4 separate regions of the Homo sapiens genome follow, and regions 1, 3 and 4 are each linked to region 2. Evidence: fine-mapped expression QTL. A gene starts in region 2. Each other region holds a variant in brackets. All regions are shown on one strand. Distances are between the middles of the regions.

Region 1 (5,152 bases), 130 kb before region 2:
GCTACAGTGATTGGTTCAAGGATACGTATATGACCTGGAAGAGATGATCAGCCTCTCGGCTAATATTTTTGGCATGGACACTTGGAGACAGGGGGTGTCTCTTTTTCTCGACTCATGGTGGGTTTTTTTGGTTTTGTTTGTTTGTTTTGTTCTGTTTTTTTGCCCAGAATGGTCTTGAACTCTTGAGCTCAAGCAATCCGCCCTTCTCAGCCTTCCAAAGTGCTGAGATTACAGGTGTGAGCCACGTGCCTGACCACATGAGTTGTAACAATCATGCAACTGCTTGTGATCATCTCTTCTGGTAGCATGGAGGAACCCATGTGCGGAAGGAAAAAGTCAGGCCAACATGCAAAGACAAGCAAAATCAAGTCAACATGAGAGATGGATAGAAGCAGAAAGAATTCAGACACCAATTCTGAACCCCTGGATCTAACAAAGCTGAAGCTAGTCTACCCCTGAATCTTTCAAGCAAGCCCCCAAAATTCTCCTTTCAGCTTAAGGTAGTCTAAATTGGATTACTATAAGCTGCAGTCTAGGATGTGAGTGGCTGAAACAACAGGAGGTAAAAGTATGGGCACTGAGAAGGCCAAGGAACTAAAGATATAGGCCAGGTGTGGTGGGTCATGCCTGTAATCCTGGCACTTTGGGAGGCCGAGGCAGGCAGATCACCAGGTCAAGAGATCGAGACCATCCTGGCCAACATGGTGAAACTCCATCTCTACTAAAAATACAAAAATTAGCCGGGAATGGTGGCACGTGCCTGTAGTCCCAGTTGCTCGGGAGGCTGAGGCAGGAGAATCGCTTGAACCCAGGAGGCGGAGGTTGCAGTGAGCCAAGATCGCACCACTGCACTCCAGCCTGGTGACACAGTGAGACTCTGTCTCAAAAAAGAAAAAAAAAAAAAAAAAGGTATGATGTCACATGAGTTGGCTTTATGGGCATTAAAGCTACCCAAGATGAAGGCAGCACCCGGTGGGGGTAGTGAAGACACCTATGAACCACTTGCAAAAGTCTAAAGCAGGGAGAATAGATAGGCTTTTAGTAGGTAACCCCAATGAGGTCTAGAAGAAAGTTATCCATCTATCAGCTAGCAGGAGCCTCAAATGAACCATGTGTTTATACAAAGGCAGAGGAATACGGTATGGAAGCACATAGCGGAAAGAGAAGCATACAGACCCCACTTGCTAATGAGAAGCTAAGTGAAGTGTCCAATAATGTGGATAAAATCACTACTGCATCAACTGGGTGAGACTTTCCAAGCCAAAGGCTACATAACCATGAAATGCTTCCCCAGTTAAAATGAGACTCCATTTCTGAGTCGTAAGTATTATGACAATATCAATAATGTAGATTTCTTTAACAGCTTCAGCCTGCCACCCCTGGACCTTGAATCACTTGCTGTTAACCTGTAAAACAGACTGTAAGGTAAAACTGGAAATTTTAGATAGGTCAAGCTTAAATTGTTTTCCCTAAATGAGATGTTTTTATGCATCGATTTAGATGTCTCAGACAGTGACCAGAATAATAACCTCAGTGCAAAATCACTATCACTCAAGTGTATTTGACAGAAGAGTTAGTATTAAATATTTTAAAGCCTTATGTAAAAATCATATCAACCTAGTGCATTTTATTGGACAGCATAAAATATACATGGATATTATAGAAGAACAAAATCTAACCTAAAAATTCAAAGCTGGCCTGCCAACTCTGGAATGATTGCCATAAAGGGAAATCCAACAACCAACTGGCATTTTAACAAAGAAGAAAATGGCTTTATTAAAAGTTTTCAATTTGTCCAAATGACAAACACTTAATGTGTATATGGACTGTATACATGTACAGAATTTATTGTTCCCATTTCATATACCCTTTTCATTAGAAGTCCCTAAAGATCATATTCAAACATTTTTCATATTTCTGAGTATGTTAAAGATCACTGTAGATCATTCTGTGTATGTTAAAGATCACTAGAGTCACACAGTGGAAATATTATATAAACATATATTTGGATAAATGGAATGTAATTTCATGTAATAAACAGAAATTACAGTACTAACCACTATGGATCATTTTTAGTCTCTTACATGAATCCTGATATAAAATTAATGATATCAAATCAAAAATGAAAAAAAAATTTCATGTTTTTAAAATATTATTTAAAATATCTTTGAATAGCGTAGAAAATAAATTTCCCAAGAAACTAAATCAAGTTTATTAAAGATTATATTTGGAAAATGAAAACAAAGAGAATGTACAAAAACAATCTCCACTCTCATACACCCACATCCACCCATAACTGCATTTATGGGTGCATGATTCAGGGTGGGGCAGAGCCACTCAAGCTCCGAGAGCCTCCAGAGACCCAGTGAAGTCACTTCCTCCACTCAAGGTGATTTTCGATCCAAAACAGCAGACACTACTACATCTTTGGAGCATGTGAAAAGGGGTTGGTGGGGAAAACTGCAGGCCTCCCCTAGAGGAAATTCAAGACTGCCTGTCCTGCCTCTGGCCAGCCTAGTGACCTCAGCCAGGGCTGCGCAGGTGTGTTTACTCACATGCAAAATACTACTTATACTGTCCTTGCACATGAAGGAGATAGCTAGGCAGGGATG[C/T]CCGCTCCACAAGCAAAGCCTGGTCACTCTCCCTCTGTGTGGTCTGTCATCCAACCAACAGGTGTCAAATTCATTCGCTTTCTTTTAGGTTTTTCTGTTTCTTTCTTTCTCTCTTTCTTCTTTTTTTTTTTTTTTTTGGAATCATCCATTCTACATTTATTGGTAGTTTTCCTAAAAGAAGATCTTCACTATTTTTTCCCATTTTATCACTTATTGTCTGTAGCACTGTGGATTCTCAGATTTTTAGTTATTTAAAGTATAACAATCAGTGCATTTGTCAAGCTTAAAAAATTAAAAATATTTTAATATAATCTAGGACTTAGTCCACATTCAAATTTTTACAATTATTGCAAGAATATTTTATGCTTTTTTTCATTCAAACCAAGATCCAATCTAGTTTTGACCCTTGCAATTGATTGTTTCATCTCTTTAATTTCTTTTAGTCTAGAAGAAAGAAGCCAATAATTTGCTTATTATGACTTTGACTTTTTGTTGTTGTTGTTTTTTGAGACAAGGTCTCTCTCTGTTGCCCAGGCTGGAGTGCAGTAGCGCGATCTCGGCTCATTGCAACCTCCGCCTCCCAGGTTCAAGCAATTTTCGTGTCTCAGCCTCTCGAGTAGCTGGGATTACAGGCATATGCCAACATACCGGGCTCATTTTTGTATTTTTTGCAGAGACGGAGTTTTGCCATGTTGGCCAGGCTGACTTTGACTTTTTGATGACTCACGAACGGTTGGTTGTATATTTTTCATTTTCTCCTAATGTTCGGGTGCACCAGATCTATTTCTTTCCCTTTCCTTTAATTTCATGCTAGAGCTTCTTTTAAGGACAATAAAAAAATACATCTTATATGATAGAAATAAGATAAATTGTCCAAAAGAGTAACACATTTTTCTCAGTGAAGTTAAGAATATGATTCCCTGAAAAATTTGTAAAATAGAAATTTAAATGGAAAACAGAAAGTGACAGGAATTCATAATAAAATCCTGATCTTAAAAAGGTACCATTGCTGTGGGTGTATTGGATATATTGGTGAATAAGACTATATAGGATTTCTTCATCTTATAGGGTTGGGCTCCAAATAAAGCTTTCCATTTTAAAGGACTGAGACCAGCCCTGCTGAAACATTAACAATTACCACCAGATATAATCTGGTAGCAACAGTTAGAACAGGCAAGTTTCTTACAGGACCTGAGACCTATGTAAGTTTGATCCAAATGAATTAGGTATATTGCTTTTGCTTTTTGAAGAAATCATATAGCTTACACTTGTAAATCTGTCATTTTTGGACATTAACTTTTTTTTTTTTTTTTTTTTTTTTTTTCTGAGATGTAGTTTCACTCTGTCGCCCAGGCTGGAGTGCAGTGGCACAATCTTGGCTCACTGCCGCCTCCGTCTCCTGGGTTCAAGTGCTTCTCCTGCTGAGTAGTTGGGATTACAGTCATGCACCACCACACCTGGCTTATTTTTGTATTTTTAGTAGAAACAGGGTCTCACTATGTTAGCCAGGCTGGTCTTAAACTCCTGACCTCAAATGATATGCCTGCCTTGGACTCCCAAAGTGCTGGGATTACAGGCATGAACCACTGTGACCAGCCCGGACATTAACTCACGATGGCAGGGTTATTGTCCTTCCTCTATGCAAACAATTCCCACCAGCATCACAGAGATTCAGGAGAAACAGATTCTGCATAGCAGGAGAAGAGGTATGGCTTTTGAGGCAGGGCCAATGAGTTGTCCATCCTGGTCCCACCACTACCCAACTGCAACCTTGGATAGGTAACTTTATGTCTGAGCCCCAGAAAGGTTGTAAATTAAAAATGTCACAGCTTCTCCACATGGTTATTGTGAGAACTAAATCGGCTAGTAAAGCCCCTGACTTAAAATAGATACCTCCCAATATTATCTCCCACTCCCATTTCCCAATCTAACTCATGCAATCTGGTGGAATTCTTCTGGATCCTAAAATGCTAGTAAATGAAATAATAGGCGTTTTTAATGCTGAACGTTTATCTAAGGCTGACACTTTTGAGATCGTTTTTGCAAGTGATGCATTCTCACTATATCATCAAAGCATAAAATATTCACAAACTGATCAAATCTCAAAGACATGAGGAATTTGTGAAATTGGGAATTGTGTGCCATGTCTTATGGCCACCTCTCTCAAGAGATACAGTGTTCAATGAAGAAGCTGTAAATGGCCTTGTGGGTGCCTCTCTTGCCCAGTAGTCACATCTTTGAGGCAGGCACAGGTAACAAAGTGATGCTGATGTGAATGGACCAATCTTTCAAGACACTTGATGATTTCATAATCAGGAAGAGCAAGGCTGGTCACGTTCAAGCCTAGCATCTGCGACACCACCTCCCTGAAGTCTGCCAGCTGCAATATCAAACAGAAACTCATTAACTGGGAGAACAAAATGTATCAACTACTGCTGAGCCAAATGCAACAAACAAAAAACCTGTAGAAAACCCAGGTTTGCATGAGGTAGGGAAATTATCTACTCTCTTCCTAGTTCTCTCACTTATAAAATACCAGA
Region 2 (5,152 bases):
GGAGTAGGTGCAGTGGTGTTGACACCAAAGCAAATTCCAAAAGTTACAAAGAATAACGATAGCTAATATTGATATGCACTTATTCTGTCAGACACTCTCTTGAGTGCCTTACATTTATTAACCGTGAAATCCTCAAACTACGTTATGCGATAAGTTTTATGATTCCATGTTTTAGAAGAAAAAACTAAAATGCTGATACATTAATTGTTTTGACCAAGATGTCACAGATGAGTGGTATAATCAGGATTGTTTGAATCTAGTTTTGAGTCTAAAACTAGTATCTCAGTCTCTACAGTATTTTACTTTTCCAGAAAGTTGCAGACTATCACTGCTTTGTAATTTAATGTTTTCAGTCTGGCATGGTAGGAAAAGTACAAAGCTTTTGAAAGAAAGATACAAGTCCCTGCTCCATCATTTCTAATCCAGTAAGCTATTTCCTCATCTTATATAGTGAGAAATTTCTGCCCCGCCTATCTAAATTATAAGATGATCTCAGATAAAGTATTTTGCAAACTGAACATTTAATTGTAATAAATGCTGCCTTTTCTGCAGCTACTTTTGTTCTCAATAAAATTTAGTTATTTTAAGCCAATTAAAATCTCATGCTTAATGGACATTTTCCTTTTGTAGGCAGTGACTTATGCTAAAAATTTCTATCCGAATCAATATTATTACTCAACTAATATGATTTCTTATTTATTGCTAAAGGGGAAAAATCTGGCAGAGGCCACCAGCTGGGGACATCACCAATAATGGGATAAGCTGATATATGCCCCTCCTGATGTGATACTCTGAGACATAACATCTCTTATGTTATTCCTACCCAAAAATCTAATCACGAAGGACAATCAGAGAAACTTACTCTATAAAACGAATGACCTGGACTCTGCAAAAATGTCAGTATCATCAAAGACAAAAACAAACAAACAAAAAAACAAACAAAAAAAATGTGAAGAACTGTTCCAGGTTTGAAGAGACTGGAGACATAACTAAATACAGTGTGTGATCCTGAGATGGAAAAAAAATTGGCAATAAATGGCATAATTGGGACAAGTGGCAAAGTTTTAGTAGGTCGTGTATATTAGATAATATTATTGTCACAATGCTAAACATCCCGATTTTGATCATTGTATGTTCGTTAGAGAATGCCCTTATTCATAGGAGATAACACACCAGAGTATTTACAGATGAAAGGTCATAGGGGACCAGGCATGGTAGTGCATCTCTGTAATCCCAGCACTTTGGGAGTCTGAGGCAGGTGGATCGCTTGAGCTCAGGAGTTTGAGACCAGCCTGAGCAACACGATAAAACTCTGCCTCTGCAAAGAACACAAAAATTATCCAGGCATCATGGCATGCCTGGAGTCCCAGCTACTCTGGAGGCTGAGGTGAGAGGATCGTTTGAACCCAGGGGTGTCAAGGCGGCGGCGAGCCGAGATCGTGCCACTGCACTCGAGCCTGGGTAACAAGGTGAGACCCTGTCTGAAAAAAAGAAGAAAGAAAGAAAAGGAGGGAGGGAGAGAACAAGAGAAAAAAAGGAGAGAGAAAGAAAGAATCATGATGGCTGTAATTTACTCTCAATGGGCTCACCAAAAAAAATATATATTAATAATATAAAAATACCACATACTTATGTATGGTTAAGACACCACATTGGGATAAAAATTAATAAAGTCAAATATGAAAATGTCAGATGAAAGAAAAAACATCTAGTAACTGGCCTCTGAGTTAGAAAGAAAGAAAAAATAGTTTTATTTGCACACAGTGGTACTTATTTTCCACAAATATTCCAGGAATCAGAGAAATCTAAATACAGGTCAGATGTAAAACAACAATCAAAGCTGCTGAATATTAGAAGAATTCCGATGGCACGTTGGAGAATCCAACTCATGTTTTGAATCCACTACATCCCCCAGGGATATCTATGGTCAGTACACAGCGTGGTAGGAAAAGTCCAAAACTTTGGAAAGAAAGAAAAATCCTCCATCATTTACTAATTGGGTGAGTTACTTGCGGTTAGCAGTTGAGCTGAACACAATTCCCCCATCTCTGGCAACTACTCCCAATACACACGATACCCGGTGGGCCCCGATGCCAAGGCCAAAGGGGGATTCTTAACCCAGACTGAGCCAGCCAGATCTTCTTGTGCGCCCAAGTATGCATATGCCCGTGTTCGTGTGTGTGCGCGCCCGTGTTTGTTCGCGTATGTGCCTGTTCGCGTGTGTGCACGAGCGTCTGTGTATGCGCGCATGTTCGTGTGTGTGTGCGCGCGCGCATTGGTACATCTAATACCTGAAAGTCCCCAGTACCTAAGTAACTCCTGGGAGTAAATGAGTAGATGCATTCAGGAACAACTGAATTACCAACGTTTCTGGATTACTTCGCAACGAAAGGGCCGGTGACTCTACTCCGGGCTGGCCCTCCTCCTGCCACATCAGATTTTCCAGAAATTGCTCCGAAGCACACTTCAGTAGCTAAGCAGGGAAAGTTAAATGAAGGAATTCTTTGCTCCCAGGGGTGGCGGGGAGGAACTGCCCGGCCACAGTCTTTCGAATGTCACCGGTTTAAATGGTCAGAGAAGCAGAGTGGCACAACCTAAAATTCAGACGCGCTCCGCAAACTCCGGTCCTGCCCATCCCCTCCTGAAATCAGCGCCCTGGCAGTCCCAGGCCACAGCCCTCGCGGGCACAGAGCTGCTCTGATTCTGCCCACGCCTCCGGGAGGAAAAGGGTGCAAATCAGGGGCGCCTCGGCCCCTCCTGGGTCGTCTATCCCCAGGGCCACCCCCGCGCGCGGCCGGCGGCTGGGACCGTACCTCGGGCGCTGGCGAAGCGGCACCCAGCGCGATATGGCTGGTGCAGTCCAGGCTCATGACGACCCGAGCCCGGGGGCGCGCTCGGACCCGGAACCGGCCCTGAGGAAGCGGCGGCGCCGGGAGCCGGCGGGTGGCGCGGGTGTCTCCTCGGGCAACGGGTAAACACCGCGGGGACGCGGCGGCGCGCGGCTGCGCGCGAGTAGGGTGGCCCGGCCGCAGGAGGCCGGGGTGGACCCCGAACCCCCGAGCGTGGCCTCCGTGGCGAGGGCCTGCAACTGAGCGGCCGAAACTGCCAGGGCGACCTGGGGGGAGTCGGCGGGGATAACGGTCGGTCCTCCCGGTGGGACTCTGCAGTGAATGCAATTCCAGGCCTCATCCTTATGTCAGCGATAAATACAGCCAGTGGGCACTGTGAACGGTGCTGGCGCGAGTGAGGCATAGGAAACTTCACAAGGGTGAACGGAGCATTTATTTAGCACACACTGTGTGCAAATGTGTCTGCGAGCGTGCAACCTGTGCAGGTCCGGGTCCTGCGCTTGGTTTAATACTCAGCTGTCCCAGTCTTGACGTTTTTAGGAAGTTTTGAACAAGGTGTCCTGCATTTTCATTCTGTACCGGGGTCCACAAATTATGTAGCCTGCCCTGGTGTGCGTTCTTTCATTTCACCTTCTCAACAACCCTGCCTGGAAGTACGGGTACTAGTAATACCAGTGTTAGTAACAGCCACAGCTGCTCATTATGAAATACTCGTGCTCGTCCATGCACTGTTCTAAGTGCTTCCCACGTATGATCAATCTCCTTAAATGAAACAAGATTATGAAGTGGATGTTAGAATAATCCATCTGCAAGACAAGGCAACAGTCACAGGGAAATAAAATAAAATTTCCAAGATGTACAGGGTAAGTGGTAGAATGAAGATCAGGCTCCAGATCATAACACTAAAGCACAGAGAAGATGAGTAACTTGTTTAAGGTCCCACAATTTGTAGCAGAATCTGAAAATGGAATCTGCATTCACCTCACTTTAAAGCTTTTGGTGGGCCAGGCGCGGTGGCTCACTCCTGTAATCCCAACACTTTTGGGAGGCTGAGATGGGTGGATCACTTGAGGTCAGGAGTTTGAGACCAGCCTGGCCAAGAAGGTGAAACCCTGTCTCTACTAAAAATACAAAAATTAGCCGGGCGTGGTAGCGGACACCTGTAATACAGCTATTTGAGAGGCTGAGGCAGGGAAAATCATTTGAACCTGGGAGGCAGAGGTTGCAGTGAGCCAAGATTGAGCCACTGCACTCCAGCCTGGGTGACAGAGCAAGAATCTGCCTCAAAAAAAAAAAAAAAAAAAAAGAAAAAAGCCTTTAGTAGACTCCTATGCTGTTTGAGACACATGAAATCAAACAGGTGGGAGGATTGCTTGAGGCCAGGAGTTTGAGACCAGCCTGGGCAATACAGCAAGACTCTATCTCTACAAGTTTTTTTTTTTTTTTTTTAAATTAGCCAGGCATGGTGGTGCACACCTGTAGTCCTAGCTACTCAGAAGGCTAAGGCGGGGCCAGGTGAGGTGGCTCATACCTATAATCCCAGTACTTTGGGAGGCTGAGGCAGGTGGATCACCTGAGGTCAGGAGTTCGAGACCAGCCTGGCCAACATAGTGAAACCCTGTCTCTACTAAAAATACAAAAATTAGCTAGGTGTGGTGGCACATGCCTGTAATCCCAGCTACTTGGGAGGCTGAGGCAGGAGAATCGCTTGAACCTGGGAGGCGGAGGTTGCAATAAGCTGAGATAGCACCACTGTACTCCAGCCTGGGTGACAGAGCAAGACGCCATCTTAAAAAAAAAAAAAAAAAAGAAAGCTAAAGCAGGAGGATAGCTTTGAGCCCAGGAGGTCAAGGCTGCAGTGAGCTATGATCACCACTGCACTCCAGCCTGGGCGACAGAGCAAGAGCATGTCTCTAAAGACAACACAAAAAGGCAAAATCAGAGCTATGGCAGCTTTTCTTGGATTCCATCAGTCATCCTATGTGCATTCATATTGACCCTGAGGATTTCTTCATCTGGACAATGGCTTTTGAGCTCACGGTAACTTTGCCATATATCTAATCCAGAATCATCTCAAGGCTTTCACTTGATGCACCGTTAAAGAAAAAGTTCTTAATGAAAACTTAGGCTTTCAGAAATCTCCTATTAATAGTACAATTTGGAGTAAACACATTTTTAAGTTGTAGTTTTTCCTTGCAGTAGAACCACTACAAACTTGTCAAATTTTCTTTTCTTTTTTTTTTTCAAACAGAGTTTCGCTCGTTACCTAGGCTGGAGTTCAATGGAGCGATCTCTGCTCACTG
Region 3 (5,152 bases), 77 kb before region 2:
ATGTGGAACTGTGAATCCATTAAACCTCTTTGTCTTTATAAATTACCCAGTCTCGGGTATTTCTTATAGCAGCGTGAGAATAGACTAATACAGTCACTGAGCATGCTAAATGAATGAGCTCACTGTTCTTAAGATGTCTGTAAACAGCCATGACCCACTCACCCGGTCCCTGCTTTCTTCCCGGCTGTCCATTTCTCGAATCTTCTCCAAAATGGTGTCCTCAGTGGACCCAGTCATGCTCAATCTGCCCCTAAGGAGGGCTGCGATTTTCTCCCTAAATGAGAAGTACTGGCTTTGTGAGGTTGTGACTGCATCCTGACTGGCCTTCAAACTCTTCTCCAACTCAGAAGAGCTTTTCTTCAGGAGGCTCACTTCCTGCTTTGAGGCATCCCAGACCTGCTGGCCAGCAAGCAGCCTTTCTTGGAAGATCTTAACTTCCCTTTCAAGAGCTTCTTTTGCTTCTACAGCACTGAGCAGGTCCTAAAATGATTACAGAAAGTGAAGACAATACCATTAGAAGTCAACAGGGTACACCTGCATTTGCTATGGCAAATTCATTGACTTTGCCTGCTAATGACTACAAGGGGTTGGGTTAATTACTCCTTCCATTTTTAACTCCAAGTTCCCTATAGTCTCCTCATAAAGTTATTAAATCCCAATGGTATGTCAGGAAAATTTAGGTGTCTTAAAAACAGAAAATGGGGCCAGGCGTGGTGGCTCACACCTGTAATCCCAGCATTTTGGAGGCTGAGGTGGGTGGATCACTAAGGTCAGGAGTTCAAGACCAGCCTGGCCAACATGGTGAAACCCCACCTCTACTAAACAAAAATACAAAACTTAGCGGGGCATAGTGGCGCACACCTGTAATCCCAGCTACTCGGGAGCCTGAGGCAGGAGAATTGCTTGAACCTGGGAGGTGGAGGTTGCAGTGAACTGAGATCACTCCACTGTACTCCAGCCTGGGCAACAGAACAAGACTCCATCAAAAAAAAAAAAAAAAAAAACACAGAGAAGGGATATAAAATATAAAATCTGGGTTAGAAAAAAGAAGGAAACTTTGACACATAAGCCTTTTCTGTGTGGAATACTGGAAAGAGTTAATAAAAACAAATCATTGGATAACATATTAGTAGATTCAGTCCATATGTAGAATATGTTTATAGAACTATCTTTCTCAAGCTTGGTGTATACGGAAATTTATTTTTAATAAACAGTAAGCTCTCAGAGTCCTAGCTAGGCACTAACAATTATTTGAATAAAGATGCCCCCTCAATGCTATTTTGAATAATAGAGGAATATTCTCATAAAAACATCATTGCATAAAACTATTCATTGACTTCCAATATCCAATATTCATTGCATATCCCCTTGTCTCATAAAGACAACGCAGAAAGAACCTGAAGAAAGGAAACAGAAACAACTAGCCATTTGGTAGGTGGGAGGATTAAAAGTAGAGGGAAAGTATCATACTTAGAAGAATAATCTTAAAGAATATAATATGGGCTGGGCACAGTGGCTCACTCCTGTAATCCCAGCTCTTTGGGAGATCGAGACAAAAGATTGCTTGAGCCCAGGAGTTGGAGACCAGCCTGGGCAACTTGGTAAACCCCCATCTTATATAAAATAAAATAATTTGCCATGCATGGTAGCATGTGCTATGGTCCCAGCTACTTGGGAGGCTGAGATAGGAGGATTGCTTGAGCCTAGGAATTCAAAGCTACAGTGAGCAGTAATTGCATCAGTGCACTCCAGACTTGGTGACACAGCATGACCTTGTCTCAAAATAACAACATAAGAACATAACATGTGAAATTAGGTTCAGAAAAATAATGAAGGACATAAAGAAGGTTACCTGTGTACTTAATTCTATTTACCATAATCTAGAATGGCCCACAGAGGCACCAAAGGAGGATTTTTTTTTCTCCCGGGACGGAGTTTCACTCTTATTGCCCAGGCTGGAGTACAATGGCACAATCTCAGCTCACCATGACCTCCGCCTACTGGGTTCAAGTGATTCTCCTGCCTCAGCCTCCCGAGTAGATGGGATTACAGGCAAGTGCCACCACGCCCAGCTAATTTTGTATTTTTAGTAGAGACAGGGTTTCTCCATGTTGGTCAGGCTGGTCTTGAACTCCCAACTTCAGGTGATCTACCCGCTTCGGCCTCCCAAAGTGCTGGGATTACAGGCATGAGCATCTTTAAAATTGATTTTTAAAATTATTTTTTAACATCAAGTTCCAAAATACATGAATTCACATTAAGAAATATTAAGCGGCGTGTTAACTAGCATGGCTGTAGTATTGCTACCTAGTTAACTGGTAAAAAAAAAAAA[T/AT]TATTAAAAATAGTATGTTAGAGGTAAAAAGCACTAAAAAGAAACACAATATTTTTAAATAACAGACTCTACATCTAAATGAGCTGATAACATTTCAGGCTGCCAGTTAAAATGCAGTCACCTCTTTTGCATTAGAACTGGGCTTTAAAAGAAATTTCTCTCCATTAACAGCTTGGAAACAGGAAAAAGGATAGCCTGAAACACTAGTTCCTATTTTTTATAGGAAACATAACATCTTATTTTTTCCATTATGGTGACTTTTTTAAAATCAAGGAAGTCTCAGGCATCAATTTGAAAGAAAAGTCACAGAGTAGATATGTAGTTAGAGAAGCCTGCCCTTTTCAGAGATGTAATAACTCAACTAATTATGGAATCTATTTTGTAAAATGCCTTTTGCTTTTCAAGGTCTTGGTTTCCCCTTTCCTTTGCTAAACTAGTCATGTCTGTAGAGAAGCCCCACTGTTGCTGCTAATTAAATGACGGTCCTTAAAAGTAGAGTCAAGGACACTTTATCACAAATTCAATATTTTAACAGTTTACAGATTTCTCTTCAGATCATAATACAATATCTTCTCACTTGCTCAATTAGAGTAACTAGTATCAGTAAAGGTGATAATAAATTGGGGCATATTTTACTTGGAAACTACGGTCGTTCCTTGGTATCCTTGGGGAATTGGTTCTAGGACCCCGGAAGATATGAAAACCTGAGGATGCTCAAGTCTCCCATATAAAATGGAATAATATTCTCATATAAGCTACACATATTCTTCTGTATACTTTAAATCATCTCTAGATTACTTATAATACCAAATACACTGTAAATGCTAGATAAATAACTGTTATCATGTGTTGTTTTTATTTGTATTATTTTTATTGTTGTTTTGTTATTTGTATTGGCTTTTTTCCATATTTTTTTATCTATAGTTGGTTGAATCCACAGATGTGGAACTTGTGGATGCAGAGGGTCGACTGCACAGTCTGATGTGTGGTTAGAAAATTGAGGTCCTAAATTCAATGATGCTGGGATGGAAATTAATCCTAATCACTTTAGAATTCTAAAACCATATGGAATATTATATATTCACTAAAGACCCTCAAAATACACAAAATATATCTCAGATGCTTGTGACTTATGGAGTTACTGTCAATTTGGAGTAGACAACTCAACTGGCAGCCAACACCACAAGACCAATAAACACAATTAAAATATTTCAACTATGAGGAATTTTTCTACCCCAATATCATACTAATGTTTCACTGACTTCAAGAAAAGGGCCAAAACAATCCTCTCTAACAAATCCAAAGAACGTTTTCTTTTTAAACCTAGGCATCAACATTTATGTCTAGTGAAAATCACAAAATCAGTTTGTGTTCATAGAATACAATGGTGTCTGTGAGCAAGTTGGGTTTCTCTTTTTCAGGCACATTCAGCTCAGTGAACCCTAAGCTGTTTCTTGTATAAAATGCAGGACTCGAGAGCCAGAGTGACAAGGCCTTGGGGATGGTCGCTCCCTTAGTGCTCTGATTAAGTGCTGCAGGATTCAGGGGCACAGGGCTGATCTTCTGGAAATAAATGTCCTCAGACTGCAAATGCAATTACTTGTTCACCTATCAGGAGAAAGCCATCAGAGTGGATTCTGGTTCCATGGCTACCTCAAGGATACGCCGAAGCAAGCGGCATAAAATAATGTGACATCAGTACCACTGGCCAGGACCTGGGGATTGCTGTCAGACCACACTGACATACAGGACAAGAAACATAAAGCTTCCTGTGAGCAAAACCAAGACTGACCTCCACAGAGGAAATCACAGAGGGCAGGCCCTATAGACTGTGATGGGGATCACTTAAAAAATTTTTTTATAATTAATAAGTCTTTAGGTTCAGTCTGACTGAAGCGACAAATGTAAAATGATTCTTTCAAAATTACTTTTAACAAAAACTTTAATAAACAATATGATTATGGCATTCAATTTAGCTTCCCATTTAAATGCACGAGTCTGCATTAAGTAATGAAACCATCCAAAGGTTTGCGTTTTAAAAACACAATTGATTCCTGTTCTGTTGCTATTTTATGGATTTAGATACACATGAGATCAAATTGCCACTCAAAAGTACAATGATTATCATCAGGACAGAGAACCTGTGGCTTGAGCTTAATTCCTTCAATCCTAGATCAATTTTATAAAATAAAAAAATCAGTTGGTTAATTCTACCTACTGCAGTTATGATTAACAAAAAAACTCAGAAATTCCCCCAAACAGGTAGTCTCATACATTGCTGGTGGCAATGTGAACAGGTATAATTTTGGTATAAATTGTTGGCATAAATACATAACAAAACTTAATATGCACTTATCTTTTGGCCCTGAAGTTCCAGTCCTGAGGATATATCTATAAGATAGGTTACTAAATATAGAAAATGAGGAATATGTAGTTATCCAATTATAATATAGCAAAAGACAACATACTACATGAATATTCTTTGATATGTAACTTCTTAAACAAATATGAGACATCCATACTATAGAATATGATGTAGTCTTGAAATGAAATGGGGAAGTTCTTTATATACCAATATGAATGATTCTCCAAGATACAGTTAGTGAAGAAAGTAAGGTGTTTAATAGTGCATCTATACAAATAACAATGGTACATAGTATAGTACCATTTGTACCTTTATGAAAAGAATATCTCTAGAAACATGCACAAGCAACTGCCAATTCTCATCACCTCTAGAGAAGGGAATTGTAGCCAGGGGTTAGGAATGAAAGGAAGATGTGATAGAATAGTGGCAACTATGAAAACACCGGGGAATTTTAG
Region 4 (5,152 bases), 92 kb before region 2:
GTTTGTTTGTTTGTTTGTTTGTTTTGAGAGGGAGTCTCTGTCACCCAGGCTGGAGTACAATGGCGCAATCTTGGCTCACTGCAACCTCTGCCTCTCAAATTCAAGCGATTCTCCTGCCTCAGCTTCCTGGGTAGCTGGGATTACAGGCACACACCACCACACCTGGCTAATTTTTTGTATTTTTAGTAGAGATGGAGTTTCACCATGTTGGCCAGGCTGTTCTTGAACTTCTGACCTCAAGTGATCCACCCACCTCAGCCTCCTAAAGTGCTGAGATTATAGGCATGAGCCACCACATCTGGCCTGTTTTTGGTTTTTTGTTTGTTTGTTTGTTTGTTTTGAGACGGGGTCTCACTCTGTCACCTAGGCTGAAGTGGTATGATCTCAGCTCACTGCAACCTCCACCTCCCAGGCTCAAGCTATCCTCCCATCTCAGCCTCCCAGGTAGCTGGGATCACAAGTGTGTGCCACCATGCCCAGCTAAATTTTGTGTTTTTTGTAGAGATGGGGTTTCACCATGTTGCCCAGGCTGGTCTTGAACTCCAGAGCTCAAGCGATCCACCTGCCTCAACATCCCAAAGTGCTGGGATTATAGGTGTGAGCCACCAAACCCAGCCAATATTTCTTTACAAAATCAAATTTTCCACCATCACACCTTTACAGACATCTAACAGAAAAAGCTCCCTTCACTCTCCCAGACTTCTCAAATCTATCCCCTATTTCCATTCACAAAACCACTACTTGGTTCAGATCTTTATTATCTTCTGAACTGGGCTAGTCTGAACTGGACTATCTAACTGGACCAGTCAGGGAGCCACCAACTGGGCTCCCTACCTTCCCTCAGCTGTGTCCAACCCTTGGAAGGCGAGGACTTTTTGCTTATCTGTGGTGGCAGATACCTCAAAAATTATGCATGGTTGTTTTTTGTTTGTTTTGTGTGTGTGTGTGTTTTTGTTGTTGTTTGTTTGTTTTAGCTTATCAGCTATCACTACTGTTAGTGTATTTTACGTGTGGCCCAAGACAATTCTTCTTCTTCCAATGTGGCCCAGGGAAGCCAAAAGGTTGGACACCCCTGCTACCCTCTAAGCGAGTCTGACTTGAGGGAAATCTTTCTTTTACTCAAAAACCTTCTCTGGCTTCCCATTACCTACGCAGTGAAGCCTGAGTCATTAGACTGACCCATCTCGATCATTCCTATAGCTGCCTCCAGTGCCATCTCACACCTTTGGTTTCGCCAAGTATCATGTCCCAGGCTCCCTGCACCTCATTCATTTCCTGAGCCTTCTTTTCACACCTCCATTTCTTCTTTGTTCCTGCTATTCTTTCTGCCTCAAATTCCTTCCCACCTCTTCTGCCTGACAAATTCCTACTCATTCTTTAATGCTCCCCTCTTCTGTGAAGATGGCTCACTTACCACACAGAAAAAAAGTCATTGCTCCTTTTTCCAGGTTTCTGTTAAATTTTATACCTGTCTCCATCATGGCACTAATTGTACTATTTGCACTAATTGCACTATTGCACCATTGTACTATTGCACTAAGCGCACTAATTGCACTATTGTACTATTACGCCCCGATCTCCCTGTCTCATCTGCTAGACTTGATTTTCCACAGACACCTTTGGCACATCTTTGCATATCCAACCTCAATGCAGGCATGATGATTCCTCAATGTTTTAAGTACAGAAGAATGAAAAGGAATATGTTACTTGAGTGTACATGTTTCAACTTTAGGGCATTTTTCATGCCAAATTTGGCATCGAGGCTCTTGGGCCTGTGTGCCTCCCTTTCCCTTCCCACACTCCCTCCTGCAGACTCTTTCAGTCCATACTTTCCCCGCCATCCTGTCCAGCAAAACCTTTCTTTGATCTTGTTTTTCACAGCCACTGCCTCATGCCTCTCTTCTCTTTGGTCACCAGACTTCACACTGGTCTACTAGAAGGTCGCTCCCCTTCCTCTCAAGGATCCCCTCAGCACAAACAAACTGGCTTTTGCTCTCCACCGCTCCACCAAAACTGCCTCTCAAAGATCACTGACAGTCTCCCCACATTCGAATCCTCAGTGCGGGCTCCTTCTCTTCCCGTCTAACTCTCCTCTCCCACTGGGTTATCAGTGCCATTGTTTCCGAGACCCTCCATGCCACAATCTCAGCTCCACGGGGACATCACGCTATCTTTCTAAAATACTGCAATGTGGCCTGGCACGGTGGCTCACACCTGTAATCCCAGCACTTTGGGAGGCCGAGGCGGGCAGATCATGAGGTCAGGAGATCGAGACCACCCCAGCTAACACAGTGATACCCCGTCTCTACTAAAAATACAAAAAATTAGCCGGGCGTGGTGGCGGGCGCCTGTAATCTCAGCTACTTGGGAGGCTGAGGCAGGAGAATGGTGTGAACCC[A/G]GGAGGCAGAGGTTGCAGTGAGTCGAGATCACGCCACTGCACTCCAGCCTGGGCAACAGAGCGAGACTCTGTCTCAAAAAAATAGAAATAATAAACATAAACATAAAATAAAATAAAATACTGCAATGCTCACACTTACCACACTTCATATTCTACAGAGTAAAGAACACTCCATCTTCATAGTCTAAGCCATTCCAGTCTTTTCTCTTGCCACAGATCCACCGAGAATAACATGTTCCAGCCATGGAGGATTCACCATTTTGCGTCCTCTGAATATACTATGCACTTGCCAGATTTCATGCCTTTCTTCAAACTGTTTCCCCTACAGTATCTGTCTCCTGTCTCCACTATAATCTGACTTATCTTTCAAAAATGAACTTAATTATCTCCTCTCCTATAAAATCTTCCCTTTATCTGGAAGTTCCTACAGCACTTTATTAATTCAATACATATAACATGTGTAAACTTATAGTACAGCAAATTATCTGAGTATCTGTCTCCCCTATTGAATTATGAGCCTTTAAGATCAGGAACTGTGTATTATTCATATTTTAGCTTGCCAAACCTTTAGGACCTCATATATGGTAGGCATTCAATAAATACTCGTTGAGTTTAATTAAATTAATTTGAATCAAGGAAGCTCCAAACCCATTGTTCCTTGAAATTGACTTAACCAATTAAGTCCAGGACTTAACCAAACTAAATACTGTAAAATTCAGGATATTTTCAGGTAAAATTTTATACTACAACAGATGCTTCCACTCATGGACATGCCCTCGGGTCATTACTTTTTGTTTCTCAAAATTCAAGTTGTCTCGCAAAACACCTCCAGAAACCAGCTCTGCCTCCAGGTGTGTCAGCTGACCCTGAAGAGTCTCCAACATATTCTCTGCTTTCTGGGCCCTCTGGAGAGCTTTCTGGTGAAACCCAGACTCCTTTCCCAACTGTTCAACAAGCTCAGATATTTGGGCTTCAAGCTGGGAGACCATCTGGAAACAAAGAAACAGATCAAGAATAAGCCTTGTTTCAGATGCAAGGAAGTGTTCACATCTACTGCTCTGCCTAAGCAGCATAACTGTTTATGATACCAACTTCCAGATTATTTGTAAAAATCCCATTTAAAATATGTAATTGATAGCTGTATTTGCCTCTGTTTGAAATAATCTACTTTCATTATTGAATTAAATTTTTCGATTGGTATTTTTAATTTTTATATAATTCTTTTATCAGGTTAATCAATAAAAATTTATGGATAACATTTACTTACCCCAAAACTATTGCTAAGAGTTTCAAAGTTTAGTAGGAAAAAGAATTAAGACAAAAAGTACTGTAAAAATCTACAAAGAGTCATTCCCCAGAAAAATTCTTTCACCATTTTGAGTTGACTTAAGATTAGACAGTGAGATAATCTTGGTAGGTAACATTGAGGTATTACAGGGAATTCATGTACAGATATATGCTTTTTCAAACTTTTTTCAGCTTTCTGTTGAAGATTGGTTACCTATGCCCTAAACTCCAGGGATGCTGACTCTACACTACATAGTTATAGAGTAATACCATTTTTGCATTGGAGAGGTCAACATCTCTTTAATATGGTGACTCTAAATAAGGTCAGTGTCAATGTACAAGAGAGCAGGGGAATCTGAGTACTGTCCCATGTTAAAGTCCCTCCAGGCTCTCCACAACCCACCTGATTTGCCCAATGCTCCCATCCTTCCCAGGAGTTCCTCTTTTTGTCCTGATCATTCCCTTAAACCAAGAGTGCAAGTTTACCAAGGACCTCAGGGACACTCTCAGAAAACTCAAACTGATTTTACTAAATCCAGTTTCATAAAATGTTGAATTCAATAAAACCACCAAGCCTAGGGTGATAAATTTGTTTTCTTTCGATGGTTTATTTTGGAAGAGAAGAGGGAAAACATAGTATTTACATAACAGTACAGTACCATTCTCACAGAAATGGAAACATCCTGACTGTTTCAGATTTTTACTGTCTAAATTTTTAAAAAGAAAACAATTTCTGTTTGCCCATCTATAAACAGCCGTGCTTAAACACGTAATCTGCCTTTAAACTTTTTGAAAGGCTATTATATGGGAGAACAAAAGGATTTGTTCTGAGTTACCCTCGGAGCCTATATTGAGAACCAACAGGTATAAATCAGAGAAGAAATTCCATATTTATGAAAGGAAAATGTTTTCCCCAGTTCCTATAATTATAAAGTAAGATATCCCCATGAAATTTCTTTTAACCACAAAAAGTATAAACAGGCAAAAAACAATCCCCTGTGATCCCACCACCCAGAGGCAAAAGCCATTAATATTTTTAAATAATTTGTTTTTGTGTATTGTTAAAATATAGTTGAAATATTATACATGCAATTTCATGTCTTTGTTTTTACCTAATTATTCTCATGCCGTTTGAAATTCTTAATTAACATTTTAATGGCTGCATTAAGAATTCATCATGAGAATGTGTCATCATTCACTTAAGCATTCCTTTCTAAGAAAGGAAAAACTCTTCCCTGTGAGGTCTGAGAAAAAAAATTAAAAATAATAAATAATCAAAATAAAGAAGAAAGGGAAAACTTTACAATGATTACAGCTGTGTAAAGACACTGTCCAGTAGGGAGTGGATTCCCAGTCACCGAAGATGGCCGGAAATTGGCTAACTACAGGCACATCTCACTTTATTGCACTTACTTTATTGCTCTTCGCAGATATTTTAGTTTTTTACAAATTGAAGGTTTGTGGTAA

Direction of the effects. Positions count from the first base shown, and alleles are read on the strand shown. Sizes are in standard deviations (SD) of each study's normalised expression. Not every link is listed here.
With allele T in place of AT in region 3, the expression in subcutaneous fat of the gene that starts at base 2,982 in region 2 is lower (moderate effect, 0.52 SD a copy in TwinsUK).

Evidence for each region. PIP is the estimated chance that this variant, and not a neighbour inherited with it, causes the effect.
Region 1: its variant is the best candidate, but not a certain one, in a credible set for the expression of CCDC170 in whole blood (INTERVAL, PIP 0.54).
Region 3: its variant is the best candidate, but not a certain one, in a credible set for the expression of CCDC170 in subcutaneous fat (TwinsUK, PIP 0.72).
Region 4: its variant is the best candidate, but not a certain one, in a credible set for the expression of CCDC170 in whole blood (INTERVAL, PIP 0.62).

Annotation. Positions count from the first base shown.
Region 1 is chr6:151,617,787-151,622,938 of GRCh38, reverse strand. It overlaps CCDC170 (coiled-coil domain containing 170), which reads right to left. Exons shown (of 11, transcript NM_025059.4): 11 at 1,746-4,992. The coding sequence ends at 4,792. Among named protein-coding and RNA genes, the nearest start is that of CCDC170, 130 kb to the right of the region's middle. The variant C/T (reference allele first, on the strand shown) is at 2,613.
Region 2 is chr6:151,491,847-151,496,998 of GRCh38, reverse strand. It overlaps CCDC170 (coiled-coil domain containing 170), which reads right to left and starts at 2,982. Exons shown (of 11, transcript NM_025059.4): 1 at 2,814-2,982. The coding sequence starts at 2,870. LOC124901436 (a long non-coding RNA gene) reads left to right here. Exons shown (of 2, transcript XR_007059817.1): 2 at 1-592.
Region 3 is chr6:151,568,502-151,573,653 of GRCh38, reverse strand. CCDC170 (coiled-coil domain containing 170) reads right to left here. Exons shown (of 11, transcript NM_025059.4): 6 at 163-480. Among named protein-coding and RNA genes, the nearest start is that of CCDC170, 77 kb to the right of the region's middle. The variant T/AT (reference allele first, on the strand shown) is at 2,333.
Region 4 is chr6:151,584,124-151,589,275 of GRCh38, reverse strand. CCDC170 (coiled-coil domain containing 170) reads right to left here. Exons shown (of 11, transcript NM_025059.4): 7 at 3,187-3,387. Among named protein-coding and RNA genes, the nearest start is that of CCDC170, 93 kb to the right of the region's middle. The variant A/G (reference allele first, on the strand shown) is at 2,399.